Linked DNA regions of Homo sapiens: regions 1 and 3 are each linked to region 2. The links come from fine-mapping of genetic effects on gene expression. A gene starts in region 2. Each other region holds a variant in brackets. All regions are shown on one strand. Distances are between the middles of the regions. Region 1 overlaps SLC3A1 (solute carrier family 3 member 1). Region 2 holds the start of PREPL (prolyl endopeptidase like). Region 3 overlaps SLC3A1 (solute carrier family 3 member 1).

What was found. PIP is the estimated chance that this variant, and not a neighbour inherited with it, causes the effect. A credible set is the group of variants that fine-mapping cannot tell apart.
Region 1: its variant is the best candidate, but not a certain one, in a credible set for the expression of PREPL in blood mononuclear cells (TOPMed, PIP 0.77).
Region 3: its variant is the best candidate, but not a certain one, in a credible set for the expression of PREPL in whole blood (TOPMed, PIP 0.89).

What each region holds. Positions count from the first base shown.
Region 1 is chr2:44,284,191-44,291,217 of GRCh38, reverse strand. It overlaps SLC3A1 (solute carrier family 3 member 1), which reads right to left. Exons shown (of 10, transcript NM_000341.4): 4 at 5,061-5,186. Among named protein-coding and RNA genes, the nearest start is that of SLC3A1, 12 kb to the right of the region's middle. RefSeq lists an enhancer at 3,979-4,534. The variant T/C (reference allele first, on the strand shown) is at 3,272.
Region 2 is chr2:44,357,802-44,364,828 of GRCh38, reverse strand. It overlaps PREPL (prolyl endopeptidase like), which reads left to right and starts at 3,335. Exons shown (of 14, transcript NM_001171613.2): 1 at 3,335-3,449. It overlaps CAMKMT (calmodulin-lysine N-methyltransferase), which reads right to left and starts at 2,882. Exons shown (of 11, transcript NM_024766.5): 1 at 2,684-2,882. The coding sequence starts at 2,821. RefSeq lists enhancers at 2,175-3,068, 2,787-3,256, 2,493-3,692, 3,069-3,963.
Region 3 is chr2:44,318,182-44,325,208 of GRCh38, reverse strand. SLC3A1 (solute carrier family 3 member 1) reads right to left here. Exons shown (of 10, transcript NM_000341.4): 10 at 3,715-5,010. The coding sequence ends at 4,570. It overlaps PREPL (prolyl endopeptidase like), which reads left to right. Exons shown (of 14, transcript NM_001171613.2): 11 at 1,798-1,947; 12 at 2,355-2,478; 13 at 3,309-3,382; 14 at 3,764-7,027. The coding sequence ends at 3,853. Among named protein-coding and RNA genes, the nearest start is that of PREPL, 40 kb to the left of the region's middle. The variant A/G (reference allele first, on the strand shown) is at 4,066.

The DNA.
Region 1 (7,027 bases), 74 kb after region 2:
AACTGAAAACCTCCTTGACAAATCTGTGCAGAAAAAGTGAAGCATGGAGAGGGAAACACATACATTGCCTCAAAGCAGGTGTAGGATTGTGGTTAAGAGCATGAACTCAAGTCCGAGTGTCTGGATTTCAGTCCTGCTCCATGACTCCCAAGGATGGTGACTTTACCTATCTAAGCCTCAATTTCCTTCTCTGTAAAATGATCACAAAACCTCGTAAATTAGGCTTATTCTGAGCATTAAATTATCCAGGAACAGCACTTAGCACATAGAATGTGTGGGGAGAGCATGAGGCGTGGGTGATAAGGAGTTTTGGTGATGAAGAAGAGGAGAGTCCACAGGCTACCAGAGAAGTTTAAAACTAACCCCTAGTTAGTCTGCTGACCATGTCTACAACTACCCACCCCACAACCCCACAACCCCACAACCCCATGGAGGCAAGGTGCCCTCACTCATGGTGCTTACTTCCAGAACCAATTCCAAAACAATTCATACAAATTCTGGAAACACCAAACATATACAGTAAAAAAAAAAAAAGTCTTAAAAATAAGTAGTCTATAGGAATACATTTAACGAAAGAAGTACAAGACATGTACTCTGAGAACTGCAAAACATTGTTGAAAGAAATGAAAGAACACGTAAATAAATGGAAAGACATCTCATGTTCATGAATTGGAAGACTTAACATAAGATGGCTATGTTCCCCAGAGTGAACCACAGATTCAATGCAATCCCTATCAAAACCACAGCAGGCTTCTTTGCAAACATTGTCAAGCTGACTCAGAAATTCACATGGAAATCCAAAGGACTTGGAATAGTGAAACAATACTGAAAAAGAACAAAGTTGTAGGATTCTCACTTCCCGATTTCAAAACTTACTACAAAGCGCTAGTAATTCAGACAGTGTGTGGTACTGACATAAGGACAGACATATAGATGAATGGAACAGAACTGAGAGTCCAGAAATAAACCCATGCATTTATGGTCAATTGATTTTCAACAAAAGTTGCCAGACAATTCAGTAGGGAAAGAATAGTATTTTTAAACATACGTGATTGGAATAACTGAATAGCCACATGCAAAAAAAAAAAAAAAAAGTCGGACAGCTTACCTTCACACCCTATATAAAAATTAACAAAAAATGGATCACAGACAATCTAAAATGTAAGACTAAAACTGTGAAACTGAGAAGAAAACATAGGAGTAAATCTTCATGACCTTGGATTAAGCAATGGTTCTTAGATACGACACTAAAGGCACAAGCAACAAAAGAAAAAAATAAATAAATTGGGCCAGGCGCAGTGGCTCATGCCTGTAATCCCTGCACTTTGGGAGGCCGAGGCGGGTGGATCACCTGAGGTCAGGAGTTCGAGACCAGCCTAGCCAACATGATAAAACGCGTCTCTACTAAAAATACAAAAAATTAGCTGGGCATGGTGGTGCGCACCTATAATCCCAGCTACTCAGGAGGCTGCAGCAGGAAAATCACTTGAACCCAGGAGGCGGAGGTTGCAGTGAGCTGAGATTGCGCCACTGCACCCCAGCCTGGGTAACAAGAGCATAACTCTGTCTCAAAAAACAAATAAATAAATAGGACATCATCAAAATTAAAAACGCTTGTGCTTCAAAAGGCACCATCAAGAAAGTAAAAAGACAACCAACAGAATAGGAAAAATTATTTGTAAATCATGTATCAAGAATATGAAAAGAGGCCAGGTGTGGTGGCTCATGCCTATAATCCCAGCACTTTGGGAGGCTGAGGCAGGAGGATTGCTTGAGACCACGAGTTCGAGACCAGCCTGGCCAACATGGTGAAACCCCGTCTCTACTAAAAATACAAAAATTTGCCAGGTATGGTGATGCGCACCTGTAATCTCAGCTACTTGGGTGGCTGAGGTAGGAGAGTCACTTGAACCCAGGAGGTGGAGGTTGCAGTGAGCCGAGATCACGCCACTGCACTCCAGCCTGGGTAACAGAGTGAGACCCTGTCTCAAAAAAAAAAAGAAAAAAAGAAAAAGAAAAAGAATATGTAAGAACTTTTACAACCCAATAATAAAAAGACAACCCTGTTTAACAATGGGCAAAGGGCCAGGTGCGGTGGCTCACACCTGTAATCCCAGCACTGTGGGAGGCCAAGGAGGGAGGATTGCTTGAGACCAGGAGCTCGAGACCAGCCTGGCCAACATGGAGAAACCCCATCTCTACAAAAAATACAAAAATTAGTTGGGCATGGTGGCACGTGCCTATAGTCCCAGGTACTCAGGAAGCTGAGGCGCAAGAATCACTTGAGCCTGGGAGACTGGGGTTGCAGTGAGCCGAGACTGCACCACTGCACTCCAGCCTGGGTGACAGAGTGAAACTCTATCTCAAAAAAAATAAATAAATAAAAATGAAATAAAAATGGGCAAAGGATTTAAATAGACATTTCTACAATGCAGATATACAAATGAACTATAAGCACATAAAAAGATGTTCAACGTCTTTAGCCATTTGGCAAATACAACCAGTGAGATGCCACTTCATACCCACTAGGGTGACTGTAATAAAAAATATATGCAATAACAAGTGTTGGTGAGAATGTGGAGAAATTAGAACGCTTACCCATTGTTAATGGAAATGTAAAATTATGCAGCTGCTTTGAAAAACAACTTGGCAGTTTCTCAAATAAACACAGATACAGACACCTACCAGGGATATACAGATACAGCATGATTCTGTTGTACAAAGTGTCCAGAATAGGCAAAACCTATCTAACTGAGGCTTAGGTGGGTAAAAAGATAGAAAGTAGATTTGTGGTTTCCCAGGGGGTGGGGGAAGAAAGGGAGGGGGCCATAAGGAGTGACTGTTGATGGATATGGGGTTTCTTTTTGAGAAGATAAAAGTGTTCTGAAATTAGGCCAGGTGCAGTGGCTCATACCTGTAATCCCAGCATTTTGGGAAGCTGAGACGGGTGGATCATTTGAGGCCAGGAGTTTGAGACCAGCCTGGCCAACATGGCAAAACCCTGTCTCTACAAAAATACAAAAATTAGCCGGGCATGGTGGTACATGCCTGTAGTCCCAGCTACTCGGAGGCTGAGGCAGGAGAATCGCTTGAACCTGGGAGGCACAAGTTGCAGTGAGCCAAGATCATGCCACTACACTCCAGCCTGGGCGACAGAGCAAGACTGTCTCAAAAAAAAAAAAAAAGTTCAGAAATTAGTAGTGATTGTGAAACTCTGTGAAGATACTAAAACCACTGAATTACACACTCAAAAGGGGTGAATTTTATGGTA[T/C]GTGAATTATATGTCAATTAAACTGTTATTTCAAAATTAAACTAAACCAAGGGTTCTAGGTGCCCCTAGTGACTCCAGCATGACAGCTTGCATCCACTCTATCTGGCTGACGTGGTGAGCTGTGGAAAGGCACCCAATGCTCCCCGTTCTGTTAGGGTCTCCTTCCCACCTACTTGGCTCAGAGGACTCCCCTACTCCCCTAAGTTTCTGCCCACTGTAGCCATAGGAGCAGCAAGAACAAGAACAAGAACATAGCTGATATGTTTTGTGAATTGTATTGTGAGAAATGATCAGCCCCCACCTCTTACTTCAGCGCCCTAACCCATTTCACTCCAGCATACTGGTAGGGTTGCCAGATAAAATACAAGACACTCAATTACATTTCAATTTCAGGTAATCAATGAACAATTTTTTGGTAGCAGTATGTCTCAAATGTTGCATCATTCATTTAAAATTTAACTGGACATCCTGTATTTTTCTTTGCTAAGTTTGGCAACCCTACACTCTGGCCTCCATGCCATCCCTGAAACACATGAACCACACTCTCACCTCGGGACCTTTCCATTTGTTCTTCTTTCTGCCCGAAATTCTCTTCCCCCAGATAGTCACATGGTTCCTTTCTCACTTCAGGTTTTTGTCCAAACAGCATCTCATCATAAGAAGGTGTCTCCTACACACTTTATATAGAAGAGCCACTTCTACCTGACACTCCGATGCCCCTTCCCCTTGGCATTCACCACCACCTAACATATATATATTTAGTGGCTAATTGCCTGCTTTCCCCTCAGTATATTGGAGACTCCTTGAGGGTAAGGCTTCTTTTATTCACTGCTGCATTCCCAGTGCTTAGAACAGGGCCTGGCACGGAGTAGGCAATATGTTAATATTTACTCAATGAGTACAGAAGTGTCGTGCATGTGTTATCTCATCTAATCTTCCAAACAGCCCTATGAGACAAATATTGCCACCAACTGTGTTTCATAGATGAGACAGCTAAGACATGAAAGCCAAATAACCATCAAGAAGCCCATTTTAGATGCAGGAGCCAGACCCCAAATGACCCACCTCCCTGCAGCAGCTCACTGTCACAGACACCGCACAGCTCACCATCACAGGCACCGCACAGCTCACCGTCACAGGCACCGCACAGCTCACCGTCACAGGCACCGCACAGCTCACCGTCACAGACACCGCACAGCTCAGTCACAGGCACTGCACAGCTCAGTCACAGACACCGCACAGCTCAGTCACAGGCACCGCACAGCTCACCGTCACAGACACCGCACAGCTCACCGTCACAGACAGTGCACAGCTCAGTCACAGACACCGCACAGCTCACCGTCACAGACACCGCACAGCTCACCGTCACAGGCACCGCACAGCTCACCGTCACAGGCACCGCACAGCTCACCGTCACAGGCACCGCACAGCTCACCGTCACAGGCACCGTACAGCTCACTGTCACAGGTGGCGGGGCAACTTGGAGCTAGGGTGGCAGGTGTTTCTGACTCCTTCCATTTAGGGTACTCTGAGTTAGATGAAGGAAGGAGTCACAGACATGTCTGAGAGTCTACATTTGCACCAGAGAGCTTAATCCTGGGATTTAATTCAGGCTTGATTATTGCCTACACAATTATTGTGCAATATAAAGTGTTTCAAATAACTATAGAGTATTTCAAATAATTAAAGACTTGATTTTGCCTACACAATTACTGTGCAATATAAAGTGTTTTAAATAAATACCTAAACCTCCATTAATGGAGAAGTCTGTGTGGGTATCTATACTCACTTTTATTTCTTCTTGAACATCAGGATTGCGGAAATTTAAATCAGGTTGCTCTTTCATAAACTGATGAAAATAACATTGGTTTCGCACTTCGTCAAAGTGCCAACTGGAGTTTCCATACACACTTAACTGGCAAACAAAGAAAACAGCACATCAGTGACCTATAATGGTATTGCCCACAAATAAAGATCATTGCCCTCCCTGATCCTTTGCAGGCAGAGTATGTAAATCCTGAGAGTTTTCCTTCTACAGAGAGCAGCAGGTTAAAGAAACCCCTTCCAAATACCCCCCACCCCATTGGCCTAATGCCTCACAAACATGGTTGCAACGTATTTTTACAGTAGATGCTGTTTGTAACAACTGCAACAGCAAACCAATGTTCTCAAACCCAAGACAAGGTCAACTTAAGGAACTGACATTACTAATGTATTTTCTTGAATCTTCTGTCCAGGATCCAAACTCTTGTTTGTGAAGAGAAGCAAAATGGTAGTCAATTTGGAAGAAAGAAACATTCCGCTCATCTTGGAGCTTGAGCCCAGATAGACTGAATATTTAAATTATATCCCCAGAAAATTATTAGAATCCTTCACTTAAAATCTCTACCAGTCTCCAAGAATAAAAAGCAACTTCAAGTGTTGGTACTCAGCAATAGTTGACGATGTCGCTGGTCTCCTCTGTCTGGAAATGCTCACATTTATGGCCCCATGGTATGACTCTCCCGGCTGCCCTCCCACATCTCTGGCCACTCCTTAAGTCAACGCTGTGGGCCCTTGAATGTGAGAGTTTCATGGGGCTCTGTCCTAGGCCTTTTGTCCATTTCATGTTAAAGAGAACATCTGGAAAACATTTAACAACTGGGAGATTTTACATAAATCTTTTTGAGTTGGAAGACGTAGTTACACTGAGTCCACATGTCCATGGCAACACAGGCAGATGCTGAGTAGTAGCTGCTGCCTTTCAAGGACATGCACCCTTTCCAATTCAACACACAGCCCACCTGGACACAACCAGGGCAAGAGATTTTTAGTGTACATAAACAATAAAAAATCAGTATCCAGAATACAAAAGGAACTGAAGAAAGCAATTTCAAAGGGATAAATAATTCAAAAGAAAGTAGGGGAAAGAAACCATAAAGAGGTGTTTCACAGAAATGGACACTTAAATGAATAAATGTAAGAAAAGATGTTCAACATCATTAGGAATTAGATAATTACTGTATTAGGAATTAGACACATCATCATTAGTAATTAAATAAATATAAAATTAAGATCTCAAGGCAATATTGTTTTAAGTCTGGGCTGGGCATGGTAGCTCATGCCAGTAATCACAGCACTTTGAGAGCTGAAGCGGGAGGACTGCTTGAGGCCAGAAGTTCAAGACCAGCTTGGGCAACATAGTGAGAGCCCATATTTACAAAAAAATAAAAAAACTCAGCCACACATGATGGTGTGTGCCTGTGGTCCCAGCTACTAAGGAGGCTGAGGTGGCGAGGATTGCTTGAGCCTAGGAGCTCGAGACTGCAGTAAGCTATGATTGAGCCACTATGCTTCAGCCTGGGTGACAGAATGAGACCCTGACACAAAATAATAATAATTTTTAAATAAAAATTACAAAGTTGGGCAATATCAGGAATTAATGAGAATGTGTATTTTTTATACTTCTGTGGGGGATATAAATTGGTACAACCATTTTGATAATGAATTTGACACTATCCTGTAGAGCTGAGCATGCGATATCCTGCACAGCAATTTTACTCCTAGTTATTTACCTAAAAGAAGCCCTTGGTTGGGCGTGGTGGCTCACGCCTGTAATCCTAGCACTCTGGGAAGCCGACGTGGGCAGATCACAAGGTCAGGAGTTCAAGACCAGCCTGGCCAATATGGTGAAACCCTGTCTCTACTAAAGATACAAAAATTAGGTGGGCATGGTGATGGGTGCCTGTAGTTCCAGCTACTTGAGAGGCTGAGGCA
Region 2 (7,027 bases):
CACTAGTCCAAAGATTAGAGACATATGGACCACATGTGCATCATAGAGATACCCAGATGACTACAGCCTATGTCGGTCAGCTCCCAGGTGGCCCCCAGATGCACCAACAAAATAAATACTAACTGTTGTATGCCACTGTGATGTTGCGGTTCTTACTTAGCAATAGCTTACTGATAAAATACACTAAGGACTAGGTGCTATGCGCCACTTAAAGACTGTCCTTACTCTCAGGCTTTCCACAGACACTGAACAACATCTACTAAAAATCAATTAACCAGGCCCTGTGCTAGGTGCAGAGGATGTAAATTAATAAAACATCACCTTTTCCCAGGGTGAATGCCCATTCTAGTAAGAAAAAGAGACCCTGATCACATGATCATAAAATAATATAAAGGGCTCATTGGTAGAGTTGGCTGAGGGTCTAACTTAGCCCAGAGGCATTAGGGGTGGCTTCACAGAAGAGTAGTTTGAAATGGAAGTGTGAAGAATGAACAATCATTCACCAAGTAGAGAAGATAAAAAGACTATAAGCAGGCAGATATATACCAAAAGTTTCGATGTCAGAACGTGTGGGGACTTCATGTAACAGCCACAGCTGAAACTTGTCACTGTTTTCATTTAGACCGCAATTTAGAATGAACATAAGTGCTGTAGTTTTTACTATACTGAGAATCACTGAAAGCCAGGTATCATGGCATACCCCTGTAATTCCAACTACTCAGGAGGCTGAGGTGGGAGGATTGCTTGAGCCCAGGAGTTACCTGCCTGGGCAACAAGCAAGACTCTATCTTATTTAAAAAAAAAAAAAAAAAAAAAAGGAAGGGTGGGGGCGGTGGGCGTGGCAGGCATGGTGGCTGATACCTGTAATCCCAGCACTTCGGGAGGCGAGGCAAGTGAATCACCTGAGGTCAGGAGTTTGAGACCAGCCTGGCCAACATGGCGAAACTCCGTCTCTACTAAAAACACAAAAATTAGCTGGGCGTAATGGCGAGCACCTGTAATCCCAGCTATTCGGAAGGCTGAGTACGGGAGAATTGCTTGAACCAGGGAGGCGGAGGCTGCAGTGAGCCGAGATTGCGCCATTGCACTCACGTCTGGGCAACACAGTAAGGCTCTGTATCGAAAAAAAAAAAAAAAAAAGAAGGGGGTTGCCGGGCACGGTGGCTCATGCCTGTAATCCCAGTACTTTGGGAAGCCGAGGTGGGTGGATCACCTGAGGTGGGGAGTTCGAGACCAGCTTGACAAACATGGAGAAACCCCGTCTCTACTTAAAAAAAAAAAAAATTAGCCAGGCGTGGTGGTGCATGCCTGTAATCCCAGCTACTGGGGAGACTGAGGAAGGAGAATCATTTGAACCCTAGAGGCGGAGGTTGTGGTGAGCGGAGATGGCAGCCATTGCAGTCCAGCCTGGGCAACAAGAGGGAAACTCCATTTCAAAAAAAAAGGAGGGGGGAAGGGGGGTTGAGTCCACTCTCCCCAGCTCACGCCAGATCTCATTTCAGTGGTCACTATTAAAAAAAATTAGATATTTACTTTATTATAGATACTTCCTATGATGATCTGTGAGGACATGCATTTTCTTATCCTGTAATACCATTTGTAACAATAGCAAAACCAGATCATTACTGGTCTGGAAAGACTGTCAATGTATCAGCAAATAAATCTTAATTAACTCTGATGATCTACTTAACTCATAACTCTAAAAGCACTAAAAGACCACTGTATGAAAAGGTGACTCAAGGCAACTGCAAACAAAGTGATCCCCAAAATACTAAAAGCACAATCTCAAGTAAAGTGGCAATAGCTGGGAAACTCTTTTCCAAACACAACTGTCAGAAATGGAAAAATGTCCTCCTGAGTAAAGTTTTCGGCAGAAAACTTCAGGCAGAGGCATAACACTGCTATGCAAAAACAATAACCAGACTTCACTTCAAGAAGTGAGCGAAGAATGTGAGTGATCATAAATCAGAACTTCCGTCAAGCTTGCACGAGTGGAGTTGTAAGTAACAGCAGAAACTTTGAAGTACCAGAAGATACCATCATTCAAAAACGAACACACTTTGACTAGCCCACCTTGGACACGGAGAATCTCGCTGATCACTACAAACTACAAGATAATCATTTAACTTTGAGACCTCAGTGAGAGAGGGTATCAGCTTTTCCTACTCCTTGCACGCTCCGCTGTACGGAAGATGCCGAGGGAACGCATGCCGTGTCTCAGTCCCGGCATAGTCAACCACGCTGGGCAAAAGACGGGGCCAGAGGGTGCAGACGAATATCGGTAACTCGAACCAGGCTGGGAGTTAAGCTAGAAGAAACTGGGGAAGGAGGCAAAACAGAAGCAGGAAAAGAGCAGTGGGGAGCGGCGGGCGCACCAGAGACTGGCGAGAAGGGGAAAAGTCCCCCAGACGCACAAAAATGTCTAGAAGGGGTTCTTCTACTTCGATCTGAGTTTCCCAGGAGCTCAGCCTTGGCTGTCCCGCTCCCCACCCAACCCCACATGATTCCTCCTCTTGGATGGGACGCTTAGGTGAAGCGAGGGGGAGCTTCGCAGGTGGCTCCCGGCAAACTGAGAAGGGTCTCCCAGAGCTGCCAAGAGGAAAGAACTGCGAACAGTCGCTCCCCCGGTACGTGAGAGAGGAGTGACCAGAGGCAAAGGTGAGGCGAGCAGGTTCTCCCTTACCTGCCGCAGGAGCTTCCACCGGGCGGCTCCCAGGGGCGCCGAGACTACGGGCCCCCGAGTGGTGCAGCCAACTGCCGGACTCCCGCCCGCTGCTCGCGCGGTCTCGCCGGTCCCAGCGTCCGCGACTCGCGACTCCATCTCACTGGAGCCTTCCACACCCGGAGGTGCCACCGCCGCAGCTCGTCCCCTGCCAGGACCTGCCAACTTCTTCCCTGTCAGGACCTGTGACGCCCGGCACCCTCCCTCCACCGGACCAGGCATGCGCGCTCTCCCCGAATTCCGCATTTCCGGTACTCGCATCTCCTTGGCAACCAGGGCCGAGCTGTCACGCCATTGCACCATTCTTGCTGGTAGCCATCTTGAGTGAGGGCGGACCAGAGGATGAGAGAGCTGTGGCAGGGCTACTGGAACGCTGTCCCTCATTGTTTTAGCCTTCTGTGCTTCATCTCGAGCTCAGAAGACTAGCGAAGAACGAAAAGTCTTATATATTTCGAGACTAAAGAACCCAGGAACCCAAGAAGACTCCTTGACCACAACAAAGATGGCGAAATCTGCCTGTTGCTCGTGCTAGATTGAGGTTACGTAGATTGGCGTGCTGCAAACCAGCTCTAGGCGGCTCTGGGTAAGTTGTCGTTCTGTGGGCTGCGGAACGCAGACTTCGGCTGGACTTGCCTGCGGTGACACCTGCTCCCCTCTGAGAGCTTCAGGTTCTCCGGCCTGCCTTCACTGGTTTGTGTCCAGAGCCGGACTGATTCTCTCAATTTGCGTATGTATGGGGGGTGTGCTGGTCTCTTTCCTTCTCCCCTTTCTCCCCCCGCCCAGCCACCCACCCCTCAGTCCCCAGGTCCTCGCTTTTTGACTAATGTCCCGGCACTGCGTGCGTGTCACCTGGTCCCTCTCCCTGTTGCATTCAGATCGCCTCATCCCTGGGGTGGAGAGTTGCACGGGGTAAACGAATAGGTTCTCCTGAGAACACCCATTTATCTACCCCACCCCCATCCTAGCCTTGCATACTGTCTTCTTGGGGATGAAAGATGGATGGATAAAGGCTGTGGGAACGTGGTGATGTAGGACCTTTGCAGGTCCTTGTTATTCGGGTCTTTTTTCCCCTTTTTTTACTAGTGTCGGCTAGTAAACTAGTGTTGCTCCCCTACCCCCAATCGCCCATTATTTTGCTGCGACATGGAAAGGGATTAAGGGGGGCGGGGGCGTCGTAGCGCATCTGATCTATGGTAAATTTGACGCAGCATTCTACCTTTGATACCAGGGGGCATTTTGTGGAAGACTTCCATAATGACATTCAGCGGTGTGCAACATACCTAGATTATTCCTGTCGTAAATAATAGCAACTGCCATTTATTGAGTGGTCACTATGTGCCAGGCACTGTATGGTCTTAATGTTAAGCTGTCTCATTTTGTCTTTACAACAACAACCCTAGAAGGTAAATGGTGTCATTTCATTTTTGCAGATGAAGAAACTGAGGCCCGGAGACACAGTTAAGTGTAGGAGCTAAGACCTCAACCCAGGTCTCTCTGACTCTTAACTACTTATTAGCAATCAAGGTTAATAAAAGCTACCTCCTGACAAACCAGAGATGGCCTTACATTTTATTTGTGCATCTTGCAGGGGTTTTTTGTTGTTTTTAATTAAAGCGCTAAATACCTTTTTAACATTAAAAATCCGAAGTTGAGTATGTCCAGTATTTGGAACCGAACCAAATTGGATTTTTTGCTATACAGCTTACTGTACAAGTGACCTGGAACAGTTGCTTAGAACCTCCCACAGCCACAGTTTGGCAACCTGTAAAATGTGCATGGTAATATCTACTTTATTAAGTCCATATAAAATTTAAATTAGACAAACAAGATAAAAGCACCTGGCAGTTAGTTAACACTCAACAATAATTAATCTTCCCTCCCCCACCTTTATTAAATAATTAGGCTTTTCCAGTTTATCTTCCACATATATACCAAAGATACGTTCATAATTATGTAAGACCAAAGGGCTTTTTACCTTTTACAGCCCTGAGTTCCTGAGATACCCCATTAAGTCTGTGTACTTATTTGCAAATTTATATTTTGTTTCTTGTTTTGTTTTTTGTTTTAGTTTAACCCCTATGTGTGCCAGAGTCAGTGCTGCATAGTTTGAGCCTGATAGGATTAACTTTACAAATGAGACATTTAAGTCACATCTGCCAAGAATTATGATTTGAATGAAACTTTAACTTACACAGGTTTTTAGATTTAGTTAGCCTAAGTTATCAGCTGTCTGAAGTTATTCATAACCTAAGTGGGGCATGGCCCTGAAAAGGAGGGATGAGAACTGCTGATCTTAGTTACTCTGAGAACCCACTACTCTGTAATCATACCTATAAAATCATTCGTGTGCTGGCAGCCCCAAAAGGAGCATAAACCAGGGACTTTGATATCATGCAGCAGAAGACCAAATTATTTCTCCAAGCTTTGAAGTATAGTATTCCTCACCTTGGAAAATGCATGCAGAAACAGCATTTGAATCACTATAACTTCGCTGATCATTGTTACAATAGAATAAAATTGAAAAAATATCACCTAACCAAGTGTCTTCAGAATAAACCCAAGATATCAGAGTTAGCAAGAAACATCCCAAGTCGGAGCTTCTCATGTAAGGTATGGACTGTTTAAGTTAACCTATTTGTAGGTCATTAAGATTAATTTTAATTTAAAAATAAAGAATGGGTAGAATATCAGAGCTACTAATTTTCTCAGTAATTCTAACTTGATTTTTCTAATTTTCAAGTCTCAATTGTCTCTAGTCAAAAGTAAGTATAAAAGAGTATATACATCGAGGCAGGCAGATCACCTGAGGTCAGGAGTTCGAGACCAGCCTGGCCAACATGGTAAAACCCTGTCTCTACTAAAAATACAAAAGTTAGCTAGGCGTCATGGCACCCACCTGTAATCCCAGCTACTTGGGAGGCTGAGGCAGAGAATCTCTTGAACCCAGGAGGCAGAGGTTGCGGTGAGCTGAGATCGCACCACAGCACTCCAGCCTGGGTGACAGGGAGACTCTGTCTGAAAAAAAAAAAAAAAAAAAAAGTGTATACATATATTTATAGGGCTCTAATGTAATATATAAAAATGTAGGTTTATAAAAAATGATTCACCTCAGGACTTCCTTAGTATGCCTGCCAGTGCATTTCAAAGTATAATTCGGCCTTCTAAATTTCCTAGAACACTAAATTATAGCTCTTAATAAAATCTAATGATACGCTAATTGTTTTATGAATCACAAATCAGTAAACTTCAGTAAAGGCCATGAATTGTATTTTATTTCTCTGTAAAAAAATGAAAAATAATCTTGCGTTTTTGACCACTTGAGTCATTCAGGAAGACACTGTCAGAGTATTGTACTTCTGCCAGACCCCAAGCTGTGGGCGTGAACTCAACCTTAAGGACCTGATTGCCCTTATATAGAGAGTAACCACATAACCACTTTTGCCTGGCACAGCTCCAGCCTACACCTGTTGTCCCTGTGTAATTATTAATAGTGTCCCCTTTCCTCTCAAAAGTGTCCTGGTTAGAATGGTAAATTATATGGTCATCCTACAGTAAGTAGGATTAAATGATCTATTTGTGCTGCTGCTGCTTTGACATCCCTCTCCTACCTTTTACTTCTTATGTTCCTTAGGTTCCTTAATGATATTTGGGGGTGGTATTCTTGCAATAGTTTCACAAATTTATGATTTTAATATTTTTTTTATTTTAATTTCTGGTTTTGTCGCATACTGATTTTTCTTTTAGTCTGTTTTGGCTTCCTCCTTTCTTCGGGTAAAATATATGTATAACAAAGTTTTCCACTTGATCCATTTTAAAGTATGCAATTCAGTGGCTTTCAAAGTTCATCTGTGTTGTATGCATGTATCATAACTTCATTTCTTTTTATAGTTGAATAATATTCCTTTGTATGTATAAACCACATTTTGTTTATCCATTCCTGTAATTGATGGACACTTGGGCAGATTCTTCTCATTTTAGAAACTATCTTTTCAATCTAATTTTTCTCAGTTTTTCTAGTTTTTGTTCAATTTTTGCCGCTATCTTAGCTGATACCTATTTAGGTGTTGTGTGTGTCTCTTTTGCTTTTAACATTTTATATGTTAGCCCCCTAGTCTTCCTAGACTTTTACTGTTTATGTTTTAGTCTTTGAAATTCTTTTCCTTTTTGTAGTGTCTTGCCTTAGTTTAGTACTTTCTTTACTCATTTAGAAATTCTTTATAACTTCTTTTTATTTCATTTTTGTGTTTTTTGTACATCTTTCCTACTTCAGAAAGATAAAATTTTTAATTTCACCTATTGAACTAA
Region 3 (7,027 bases), 40 kb after region 2:
AAGTCACACATGGGTCACACAGCTACTCCCAAGCTGCAGGGAAAAATGGGAAAGAGAAGTCTAGCACTTAGTATCTCCACAGTGAGAGGCAGGCTCTAGCTGATAAGGTTGGAGGTTTTTCAAATGCAAAAAAGTTCATATGGTAGGCAGCCAAAAAGAATTACAGATGACTCACTATACTTGGTTAATGTTAATATGAGGGAAAGCTAAAAAGTATGTTAACAGAAGAAAATAAAGCTAAGTGAAAAATACAGCCTTCATTTTTGTTTTGTTGTTTTTGTGGGGTTTTTGTTTTTTTGTTTTGTTTTGTTTTGTTTTTTGAGTCAGAGTTTTGCTCTTTCACCCAGGCTGGAATGCAATGGCACACGAACACAGCTCACTACAGCCTCGACCTCTGGGGCTCAGGTGATCCTCCCACCTCAGCCTCCTGAGTATCTGGGACTACAGGCATGTGCCACCATGCCCTGCTAATTTTTGTGGTTTGTTGTTGTTTTGTAGAGATGTGGTTTTACCATGCTACCCAGGCTAGTTTCAAACTCCTGGGCTCAAGTGATTTGCCCACCTCAGCCTCCCAATGTGCTGGGATTACAGGCATGAGCCACCATGTGCGACCCAGCCTTCGTTTTATTAAATTTTGTAACACTAATTATAAGCCAATGGGTTGTTTTCTCTTCTTTCACCTTGGGTATTTTGCAGAGTTTCTTTACTTAGCGTTTTTTGCTTTTAATATAAAATGTCCAACTGGTCAAAAAGACTTTATTCCTTGTGTATTTTTTTCATTTAAAAATTTTTAATTATGGTAAAATACCATAAAATTTACCATCTCAACCATTTTTAAGTGAATAGTTCAGTAGTGGTAAGTGCACTCATAGGCTTATGCAGTCAATCTCCAGAACTCGTTTTTCATCTTAACAAAACTGAAACCCTGTACCGATTAAACAGCTCTCCATTTGCTTCTTCCCACAGCCTCTGTCTCTGTGAATTTGACTACTCAAACACCTCACATAGGTGGAGTCATACAAAATTTTTTGTGACTGGCTTATTTCACTTAGATTATATCCTTGAGGTTCATCCATATTGTAGCGTGGATCAGAATTTTATTCATTTTTAAGGCTGAATAATATTCCATGTAATATTGCATGTGTATACCACATTTTGCTTATTCGTTCTTTGGTTAATGGACACTTGAGTTGCTTCCACCTTTTGGCTGTTGTGAATATGCTGCTGTGAACATAGGTATGCAGATCTCTTTAAGACCCTGCTTTCAGTTTTGGGGATTATATGCCAGGAGTGGAATTGCTGGATCATATGGTAATCTTAAGCTTAACTCTTTGATGAACCACCATACTGTTTTCCAAAGCAGCTCCCCCATTTTACATTCCAACCACCAGTGTATCAGGATTCCGGTTTCTCCACATTACTGCCAATACTTGTTGTTGTTGTTGTTGTTTTAATATAATAACTAACTGTCCTAATTGGTATGAGACAGTAGCATTTATTGCTTTTATATAAGAAAAAATATAAATGAATAAAAGGTACTAAGCTAAAAATAAATATTGTGAAATTAGAAGATAAACCATTTCTTGTTATATGTCATTTAAGGAATCTGAAGACTTTAAAAGTAGGTTATAAATTACAGGCCCTGGTTAAGGACTGAGTATTCTAGCTCCTAGGAATCTACATGGCTTGAGTTATTTTCTCTCATATTAGTATGTATATTCATAAAATAGAATGTTTTTCTGAAACTCACTTACCAACCTCTTACTTGAAGTATAAGTTTCTTTGCCTTTTTTTTAGGCACCTTTCTTGGATGTTCTCAACACCATGATGGACACTACACTTCCTCTGACATTAGAAGAATTAGAAGAATGGGGGAATCCTTCATCTGATGAAAAACACAAGAACTACATAAAACGTTACTGTCCCTATCAAAATATTAAACCTCAGGTAGTGAAAGACAATTGTGTTAGATTATCCTGAATTTACACAGAAGATAATAAAAAAAAAACTTATCCAAGCTGAAGCAAAAATAGGAGCTTTAGAGATGTTTCTACTTATGATGCCCAAATATCTTCAGCACCATCTCTGCTCATGCTCCATGTTTAATACCTCAGGGGAATAGACTTATCATGCCTTAATTACTAAATTAGCTAAGGTCCTTTAGTCAAGAAAAGGCTATTCCAGATAACAAGTAGTCTACTACTGTAATACTGAGGCGCTCTCAAGATAGCAAGTGAGAAAAAGCATAGAGCACTTACAGGGAAAAATTGGAGGTAATTATTTTTCATAGTCTCTATAGTGGCAAGGGACCATAAGAAATAATGTAAACTCTTCGTGCATGTATTTTCTTTCAGCATTATCCTTCAATTCACATAACGGCATATGAAAACGATGAACGGGTACCTCTGAAAGGAATTGTAAGTTATACTGAGAAACTCAAGGAAGCCATCGCGGAGCATGCTAAGGACACAGGTGAAGGTAGGAGACCCCCTAGAAGCAGGGAACATGGCCAAACAGACTACTACCCACAGCACACTGCTCAGAGGAATATATTTCAGGCTGTAGCCAAATCATCTGCCCAGGATTTAGGGCAAACAATTATTTTGCTATGTTGACTCCCCAGTTAAAGTGTACGTAACTACATGTCTATACATACACTGCCTCACCTCTTTTTCAAAGGACAGTATTAAAATAGATAGGCAGGACACAAAGGAAACAGGAAATTTAAGAATCAGATATAACTTGGAGATGCACTGCCATACAATTATTAATTCATTTAACAATATTTATTGAGCCGTTATTCTTGGGAATCTCTAAAAGACAGATTCTGAGATTTTTGTTTTGGGCCATCAGTGCCCAAACTGTTTAGCTGCATGAATTTCCTCTAGCTAGCTGTTTCAGCTTTATGAGATAAGAATCCCTCCCTTTTGCCTTGAAACTACATGCCATATCAGTCTCCCTGTATTCATCTCCATTTGTCACCCCCATCCATTGCTGTAGTTGGTGTTTCCAGGGCATAAGACTCTCAGATTCCACAGGGCAGGTTGATGATCTCCTGGGTTTCAACCTTGTCCGTGTGGCACCATATAGTCTTTTCCATACGGCCTCTTCCTGCTTTCGCTGTGTCAGAAGTTTGTCTTCTGTTGCTTGTCCCCTCCCATCTTTTTGTTGATGATGGTGGTTTTTGCTTTTTATTCCTTTACTATTATTTGAACTGAGTACTCAAAGAAGAGGGGAGGAATGGGTCTCGATCTTCCAAAGAAGATCCCATACAATCTTCTAATTGTTCTACATGTTAACTCTTCCAGGCTATCAGACCCCTAATATTATTCTAGATATTCAGCCTGGAGGCAATCATGTAATTGAGGATTCTCACAAAAAGGTATGTTATCAAGGCCCTCTCAGTGGACAGATTCCCGAACTAGATACATGTTGTTTTCACATTTTCAGTGGTTGCAGCAGGTTTATGACAAAGCCACTTCACAAATGTCCTATCTATGGGTGAGACCCAGGAGGGGAGGGAGGGACACTGTGTCAATCAAGAGAAATGTCTCTCTCTTGTACTTGATACGTGAGCTCTGTTAAAGAAAATAATTTAATCTTAATTGTTGGAAGCCTTCTGCCTCTCTCTCGAATGAAAGTATTCTTGCCATAAATTGCTGACTTCACGGTTAGGTAAAGATGGATAGATAAAGAGAAGCTTAAACAGTGGCATTTTACTACAAAGGCCTTCTATTTAATTTTTTTAATGTGTTTCTTTTAGATTACAGCCCAAATTAAATTCCTGTACGAGGAACTTGGACTTGACAGCACCAGTGTTTTCGAGGATCTTAAGAAATACCTGAAATTCTGAAACACTGCATTCAACTGGGAATTGGAAACACACTGAAATATTTCATAGTCTTACTTCCAATTGAGTTAGCAAAAAAAAAATTAATAACTTGAGACTTTTAAGTTATTAATTTTTTAAAATGTGCTTCTCCATCTAAATTTTGCTTAGTCTACATCTCACTTGCTTATACTATTCTCTCCATTGATGCACATGCCCATTAACCTAGGAAAGTA[A/G]TTTTCAAATCATGCTCCTTAGAAGGATGTGGAGTAGAGGGAAGGGAAGGATTGGTGATAGCAGAGCTCCAGGCCTCCCTTCCAGTCAGAACAGTTGAGCAGTTTACAAATTAGTGTCCTGCCTCTTTGCTAGCAAATGCTTTTAGACACTGTGGCAGTGAGTCATCCTCTAATTTCTATGACTGCATTTTAAGGGAAAAGATAAAATTCTTCCCCTTAAAATTCGTTAAAGTTTTTGAATAATCTGGGGTCCTAATGTGTTCTGGTCATCCCTGATTGATGCTATCTGAATAAAGTTATAAGCTCCTATAAGCCATAATTTACTTTTAAACATTTTATTTTTTTCAAAACATTTGAGAACCTTTCTTAAAGCAGTTACATTCAAGCTACAGAAATATCGAAGAATTAATGATTGTTCACCAAGCAGCATGCTGTACATGAAGCTATTACAAATGCTTACAATCCCACTGAAATGCCAGTGTCTTCATCTCTTCATAAAGGTGCCTAACACGAGGTATACAGTATGTTCAGTACACTGGAATAGCATGCTCGATTGGAAACAAAGCATCTATCTCTGAAAGCTGTTTGGCGATGAAGGAGATTCTTCGTGTTGTGTTCAAAGATGAGTCCCTCTCCCTTGTCCAGAAAAATGCCACTTGTATCAACTTTACTGCCTTTGTCGGCAGAATTGGTACTTAACCTTATTCTCATTTTAGCGGGAAGGCCCGAAATCATATTATGTAGATTTAACAGTGTTGATTCTCCAAAATTCAGAACCACGATAAAGATTCTGTCGATGCCATCCAGCTCTCTTGTGTACACAACATAGTGGCTGTCATTCCTCAAATGGCAAAACCAGCCCCTGTTGAGGAGTAGCTCATTGGCATGAAGTAGACTTAAATCTTGATATAACTTCAAAGCCGATCTGGGCTGAGTCTTTTGGACCTATTTTTTTAAAAAAGTATTTACGTAAGTGTTTGATTCTAAGAATTGTTTGTAAGTATTTTTAATATATTGTAAGGAGTTATTTACCCAAAACACTTGCTCCAATTTTGCCCCTTATAATTGCCAAATTGTAAGCATCAATAAGTAGGTAAGAACAATTTATATAAAAACTGATAGAAATGACAAATTCGGGGTTTCGGCTTGTCTGGGAGTCAATAAGTACGCACAGTGCTCTGCTACATTGTAGAGTTTCTGTAGAGATCAAATTTGACTCCACTTTAGGAGTCCCAAAGCAAATGTCCATGTCTAAGATGAATATTTAACTTGCATAGTCATTCTGTGCTATATTGTAACTGCCAGATGGCCAGAAAGAAGGCAACAGTGGACTCAGACTTCTGAGGAATTTGGGTTTGTTCCCCTTTGTAGACTAATGTGTAGGTTGCTGTTGTGCGAAGATCGTGTAACTTTAGCAGACATGTATTTCTTGCACAGCTAATAGAAGACAAAGTTGAAAAAAAGGATGCAAAATAAAAAGCTGCCTAAGGTGAAAGTTAGAAATTGTAGACTTTTTTTTACCATAATAGTATGTGTTCATTAAAGATGATTTGGGTTTATTTTACAGCTATATAAAACATAATTTGATGATGTACTTCTAACCTTTCAAGCATTTTCTGTTATTGACTATATAATATAGCCTCCATAAATGTTTTTAATGACAATATTCTGTTGAACGGTTGTACCATACTCAGCCATGCCCTTTCATTTTGACGATAGTGTTTCTAATATTTTGTATTTTTATTCCCCTCCCCCCATTTTTGTATTACTTAAGATAGATTATCAGAAAGACAGTTACTTTGTCAAAGAGTATGGGCACTTGATACATAATGCCAAATTATTCTTCATAAGAGCTGTTGCCAAATCAGTGATAATGTTCATTTAATTGTATTCTTGCCAGCCATGTTTACTGGGGTGATAGTTGTTATTGTGGTTGTTATTGTTCTTTAGGGGTAGGTTCCCAATATGTGGTCTTTAAATAATTATCTAATGGTGTTTAAAAAGATGTTTATTCTGTTTGTCAGGTACAAAGATATTTATGATACATGTATGACTTGTCTAAGTTATTAACATTTTCTCTAGCCTTAGGTAATGCATGAAAGCACATGTTTCAGTGCCACTCACATAAGAAGTGCCCGGTAAGTGTTAGCTATTATTGTCTACTTGAGTTACTACTTTCTAAAAGTATGTTGAAGTCTTTTTCTGTAATTGCAGATTTGTTGATTTTGCATTTGAGTATTTTCTATATTTTGAAGCTGTTAGATGCGTAGTCATGATTTTTGGTGGAATGTTTTATCAATTTTTGAAAATTGCCTTTGTCTCATATAATGCTTTTCATATTGAACTATATTTTGTCTGCTATTAAATACTTCCAAGCCTGATTTTTGTAATTTTATTTTTTATTCAATTACAAGAATACATACTATAAAAAGGTTTTCTTCAACACCTTTCCATAGCTTCACAGTTCCCCTCAGAGACAGGCACTATATGTTCTTTTGTTTTTAATGTATCATATGTTTGCATAGGCACAGAATGTATCATTTCATATGTTTATATATTTTTCTTTACACAGTTGGTGATATGTTACCATTCTATACTTTATTGAATACCTGTTTGAAATGGTCTCATATCAATGTATATAGAACTGTCATTTTTAAAAGCTGCATACTGGGCCCATAGTTGATAGAACTGGTTTTCTGTTGATAAAATATTTAAATCATTTCTTGTGTCTTCTATTAAAAACAAATTTTGCAGGCCAGGCAAGGTGGCTCAGGCCCGTAATCCTAGCACTTTGGGAGGCAAGGCAGACAGATCACCAGAGGTCAGGAGTTCAAGACCAGCCTGGCCAACATGGTGAAACACCATCTCTACTAAAAAATACAGAAATTACCCGGGCATAATGACGTGCACCTGTAATCCCAGCTACTTGGGAGGCTGCAGCAGGAGAATCACTTGAACCCAG